Linked DNA regions of Homo sapiens: region 1 is linked to region 2. The links come from fine-mapping of genetic effects on gene expression. A gene starts in region 2. The other region holds a variant in brackets. All regions are shown on one strand. Distances are between the middles of the regions. Region 1 overlaps EXD3 (exonuclease 3'-5' domain containing 3). Region 2 holds the start of EXD3 (exonuclease 3'-5' domain containing 3).

Evidence for each region.
Region 1: its variant is fine-mapped to the expression of EXD3 in whole blood (TOPMed, PIP above 0.99). The same link has a PIP of 0.9 or more in T cells and blood mononuclear cells.

Annotation. Positions count from the first base shown.
Region 1 is chr9:137,382,891-137,385,787 of GRCh38, reverse strand. It overlaps EXD3 (exonuclease 3'-5' domain containing 3), which reads left to right. Exons shown (of 22, transcript NM_017820.5): 3 at 2,411-2,475. Among named protein-coding and RNA genes, the nearest start is that of EXD3, 39 kb to the left of the region's middle. The variant A/G (reference allele first, on the strand shown) is at 1,253.
Region 2 is chr9:137,421,907-137,424,803 of GRCh38, reverse strand. It overlaps EXD3 (exonuclease 3'-5' domain containing 3), which reads left to right and starts at 1,642. Exons shown (of 22, transcript NM_017820.5): 1 at 1,642-1,690. It overlaps NOXA1 (NADPH oxidase activator 1), which reads right to left and starts at 1,411. Exons shown (of 14, transcript NM_001256067.2): 1 at 1,098-1,411. The coding sequence starts at 1,274. RefSeq lists silencers at 1,181-1,740, 1,761-1,900, 1,911-2,050.

The sequences.
Region 1 (2,897 bases), 39 kb after region 2:
CCGAGGTGGACGGACCAATTGAGCTCAGGAGTTCAAGACCAGCCTGGCCAACATGGTGAAAACCCGTCTCTACTAAAAATACAAAAATTAGCCAGGCGTAGCGGTGAGCGCCTGTACTCCCAGCTACTCCGGAGGCTGAGGCACGAGAATCACGAACCTGAGAGGTGGAGGTTGCAGTGAGCCGAGATCACAGCACTGCACTCCAGCCTGGGTGACAGTGAGACTCCGTCTCTAAATAAAATATTAACTTAAATAACAAAATAAAAGTCTCTTTTGTTTATTGTGAAGTGCAACCCATGTGTAGGAAGGAACGCAGAGCACATGATGCGGCTCGGCACATGATCGTGAACACACCACAGCACGCCCCGCCCAGCCCACCCTGGCCCCATCGCCAGCCATGCCCAGCATGCAGCACCCAGAATGCGGGGCCAGTCACACTGCCTGCCATGGCCACGTGGTGGGGTACGTCCTCCCCACCTGGGCATCGTCCCGGGGCTGATGCACTTGCTCCGTCCTCCTACAGTGGACATTTGAGTGTTCTCAGCCTCTGTATGCAGCACACTGTGCACGATGGTGGGACGGTTCTGAGCGCAGACGGGAACACTGGCCTGTGCCACCCAGGCCCAGGTGGCTGCAGAGACGCCATGGTGGAGCCTGGGCGCCCCACGGTGTTTTATGGTTTTTTGGTTTTTGTCTGAGACGGAGTCTCGCTCTGTTGCCCAGGCTGGAGTGCAGTGGCCCGATCTCGGCTCACTGCGACCTCCGCCTCCCGGGTTCATGCTGTTCTCCTGCCTCAGCCTCCCGAGTAGCTGGGACTACAGGCACCCGCCACCATGCCCAGCTAGCTTTTGTAGTTTTAGTAGAGATAGTGTCTCACCACGTTGGCCAGGCTGGTCTCGAACTCCTGACCTCAAATGATCCACCTGCCTCGGCCTCCCAAAGTGCTGAGATGACAGCCGGCTGGGTTTTGTTTTGCATGAGCTGCTTTTGTTACATTTCTCCCAGGGAATCTGACATTGCTGATGCTGTTGTAAGTGATTTTTGAAATGGCCATTTCTGTTTATTGCTGATTTTCTCATTTTGGCTTGTGCTGAGCATTGATGCCGAACCCATTGGTTAATTCTAACGGCGTAGTTTTGATCCTTCGTGGCTTTCTGTGTAATCAATCACATTGTCGGCCGGTCCTGATGTTTCTGTTTTCCTTCTGCATTGGATGCCACCTGCTTGGGACGGCTCCAGGCCGGGCTGTGGC[A/G]TCCTTACGTGCTGCCCTGAGCACCACGTCTCACGCTCGCCCATGGCTTTTACCCAGTTCAGGGCGCTCCCTGCCCGTCCCAGGTGAGTTATTTCTTAAATTGTGAGCTGAACTGAATTTTAGAACACTTGCTCTGTGTCTACCGAAAGGGCCACGTGGTTCTCTCCTCCGTTCCGGTCCTGGGCTGAATCATAACCTTGGACTCTCCTGTTAAGTCAGCCTGGCTCTCTGGGGTGACCCCCGTCACACACGCTTCTCTGGCGTGTGTGGCAGAATCCAGCTGCTGAGGTCTGATCTGATCTCATGTGAGTCCTCAGCCTCCCTCGCAGCAACACGGGGCCTTCCCTGTTCCCGTCCTGCCCTGCAGGGGGGCCCAGCAGCTTCCACAGCCCCCCAGGTCCAGGGGGAGTTCACTGCGGAATCCACCCAGGCTCCTGTCCTCAGGCCTCCCCTGTGGAGTCCCTGCTGGCACCTGCCCCTCCCTGGCCTCCGACCCTGACCCTACCACATGACCAGGCCTGAGTGGGTCTCCACTCCCCTGCACCACCGGCCTCCAAGCCAAGCCACGCAGCCCCTGGGTTCTGTCTGGAAACCTCCCTCGGGTCTCGCTCTGGTGGCCCTGTCCGTGTGGGGCAGCGTCTTTGGTTGGCACTTTTGCTGCAGTGAGGTCGGGGGCCTCCCAGGCGGGGCTGGAGGGAGGGGGCGGCGCGGGAGGGCCGGGGACCGAAACCTAAAGAGGGCAGGGGCTTGGGGTCCTCGTGGTGCCAGGACTGCGGTGCAGGGTTTGGGTGAGAAGATGCTGATGAGGTTGCCGAGGGCGCCAGGCGGAGCAGGTAGAGGCTCAGGCCCACGAGGGCTGCTCTGCACCTGCAGCTGAAAGATGAGGCCCAGCTCCCAGGGCTGAGCGTGGTTGAAGTGCTGCTGGGCGGACTCAGCTGGATGGGCGGCCACGGGCCACAGGGAAGGAACAGGGTGGGTGCTGCCGCAGCTGGCAGGTGTGTTGTGTGTGTGCCAGACAGAGGTGGGGGAGGGTTCCCGGCCCCCCGGGTCCAGAGGAGCCCCAGGCATTGCGGGTCAGTGGGAGGGACTTCCCGGCGGGCTGTGCGATAGCCCCTGCACCTGCCTCTCCCTCCCACGGCTGTTATCTTATCTCCACAGGCCGGGACCCCCTCCTGCTCCTGCAGGCCCTGCAGACCCTGTGGTCCACGCGGGAGCGGAAGCAGGTGAGTGGACGTGGCAGCCACCACGTGCCAAGTCACAGCCAGCAGAACTGACTGTTGGGCAGAGACTGGCCTAACAGGAGGCCTCCCTGGTCAGGAAGCTGCACAGCCCCCCACGGCCACAGGGTCCTGCACAGCTGCTGCCCCAGACCGCCTCCAGGGTGGCCTGTGTGGGGCAGGGGGCGGTCCTCCTCAAGTCCCCAGGGTGGTAAAGGCACTGCCTGGCCCCAGCAGCCCCTCTGAGGTCACCTCTGGGAGGCGCAGGGGCCACTCACCTGCAGGGACACAGCTGTCGCCAGCACTGCCAGGCCTGAGGCCCCGTCCTGCCACCGCCAGAGCACCCAGGCCCGGGTGGCCACTGGGGCAGGTGTCCAGGACAGGGAGGCCTTAGGAAGGGGTGGGACTTGAGCAGGGCAGGAGGCTGG
Region 2 (2,897 bases):
GAACCACCTGGTGTCTAAAGATTACATTCCCTTTCTTGGATAACATTTTAAAATGAAATCATTGTGGGCCGGACAAGGTGGCTCACATGTGTAATCCCACCACTATGGGTGGCCGAGGAGGGTGGATCACCTGAGGTCAGGAGTTCAAGACCAGCCTGACCAACATGGTGAAACCCGTTTCTACTAAAAATACTAAATTAGCCAGGCGTGGTAGTGGGCGCCTGTACTCCCAGCAACTAGGGAGGCTGAGGCAGGAGAATTGCTTGAACCCGGGAGGCAGAGGTTGCAGTGAGCCAAGATTGGGCCACGGCACTCCATTCAGCCTGGGTGACAGAACGAGACTCCATCTTTGAAACAAACAAAAAAATGAAATCATTATGGAGGTGATTGTAAATTTGTACGCAGCTTTAAGACACAAGAGAGGGGGGTCTCATGCGCTTTGCCCAGTCTCCTCCAAGGGGGATATTTTGCCAGTCAGGGGCGTGGAGACCCTCCCACAGCGCGCAGTTCCCTCTCCTTTAAATCACTGCTGTCACCGAGCCTTCAGTAACCGTGGGCACCTGCCTGCTTCTGCGGGGTGCTTGGGACTGAGCGGGGGTGGGCAGCGCTGGCGTTTGGGATGCGCAGGAACAGGCGGCCCCGGAACGCGAGGGGGCACGAGAAGGGCACCGGGCTCCGTGCAGGGCCTCGGCCGCTGCACCCTGGCACCCTGGACTCCTGGCTGTTTCGGGGAGTGGGCTGGGGGAGGGCTGAGGGCTCTGAGGAGGAGACTGACCCGGTCTCCCGGCCATGACCACAGGCGCAACGCTTTCCCCTTAGGGCAGGGCGGTCCCTCGGGCCTGACCCAGCCCAGCAGCTTCCCCCTTCCCGGTGTGAGTCACCCTCGGGCCCCGGCCTCTCCCGGTGACCGCCGCGCCCCCCAGCGCGGCCTCGCTTAGCTCAGGTGCGGCCCCCCTGCTCGGCTCCCACCTGCCGGGGCGTTCGCTGGGTCGGGGGCGGCAGGGCGACCCCGTGACGGTCGGGGAGGGGCGCTGGGCCCTCCCCAGGGGCTCGAGGCGGAGGCGTCGCCCGCACCGGCCTCCCCACGCCCCGCTCACCCGCAGCGCGGCCTCGGGGTCCCCGGCCAGCAGGTGCACGCAGCCCGCGTTGAAGCACAGCCTGGCGGGCGGCGCCGGGACGCCCGAGAAGAGGTGCAAGGCGCGGGCCCAGTCCCCACGATCCACAGCCTGCGCGCCCAGGTGCCAGGCGCGCACCAGGTCCCCCAGAGAGGCCATGGCGGCCGGTGGCGGCGCTCGAGGAGGGGCCAGGATCCCGCGGAGGGGCCGGGGCCGGGGCCAGGCGGCGGCGCGGGGCTGCGGGGTCTCCGAGGCGGGCAGAGGTGCGGGCGCCAAGCGCCAGGTGCAACCCCGCTGCCCCGCGGCGCCCCCTGGCGGCAGGCGCCCGCCCCTCCCCGGTAAGGCCACGCCCCCGCCAGAAACGGCTACGCCCACTCCAGACCCTCAGGCCTCGCCCACCTCCCATTCGGCCCCCGCCCCGGCCGGACTTCCGCCGGGAGCTTTGTGCGCCCGGCTTCCTCGCCCCGCCCGCGCTGGCCTTGGTGCGCCGGATAAAGCCCTCCGGGCCAGCGGCTGCGGTCGGGCCAAGGTTCCGCGCCGGGCGTGGACGGTGTGGGGCGGTCCCGGCCCCGCAGGTGAGCGACCCCGGGCCGCGCGGGCCAGGTGGGCGGTCTGGGCGCCGGGGGCAGAGCGGGGCCGGGCCGGGTGCGCGTCCTGAGGTGAGGGCCGTAGCTGGGAGTGAGCCGGGGGCGGGCCGCCGGCTCTCCCGGGGTGGGGAAACTGAGGCCCCGATGGGGCGGGGAAGGTGCGTTCTCCCGCAGGGCCCCGCTCCGGAGGCCGCCGAGCAGCCGGACGCCGCGGGGAGCTGAGCCGACCCCGGCGACCCCGCCGCCCTGTCCCGCAGGGCCTGCCCTCCTCCGCGCCTTCCGAGCACGGACATCACAGGACCCGGAGGCCCTTCGCTCCCTCGCCGAGGAGGAGGCGCTCCCGGTGGGACGCGCGCGCGCCCGCCCTGCCCTCCCCGGGAGAAGGGACGGGCGCCTCCCTGCAGGGGCCCTGGCTTCCTGTCCACCGGCGCTGAGTCCTGTATTAGTTGTCAACCTAAAATAATTAAAAGGGTCAGAATGTGGTGCCCGGTGGGTTTATTCAGGCACAGAGGTCGAGGGCGGCCTGGGTCACCAGGTGCAACGGAGAACAAAACAGAGGCTCAGGTTTTTAAAGAAAACAGAGCCCATCGGAGAGCAGGTGGTTTCGAACGTTGCCCAGGAGCTCACTGGCTTGTAGAAATGGCATTGGTTCGCGATTGACCACGGCTTGGTGTCATCAGTGGATAGTTACTTGGCTCGAGGGGTAGTGAGGGGCTGCGGTTTCATTTGAAATGCTTTCTGGCACTTAACATCAAGCTTTCTGGGCCCACAGTTTAAAAGGGCTTTACATTCCTCAGATAAATGATTTTTTTCTTTCTCATTTGCCCCCCTTTTGATCAAAATCTTTCTTCTTGAAAGCATTGATTATCAAAATCTGAGGGTCAGAGTGTCCCCTCTTGCTGGGAAGGCTCATTCCCACATAGTCCTGTCCCATGCCAAGCAGGGAAGGAGGAGACATTTCAGGGAGTTTTTTTTTTTTTTTTTTTTTTAAGAACACCACAAACTGAATTGGAATGGCATTACAGGGTGGCAAACATGAGGTCTCAGTGAAGTCATTAATTTATACAACTGCTGTCACCTGTTGAATCATCTCTAGTTTTTAGAAACACCATTAATTTTAATTTTCTCAGAAGTAACACATAGGACTATAACCAATTTGTATGCCAGGATGAAAAAAACAAACCTGTTCCATTAG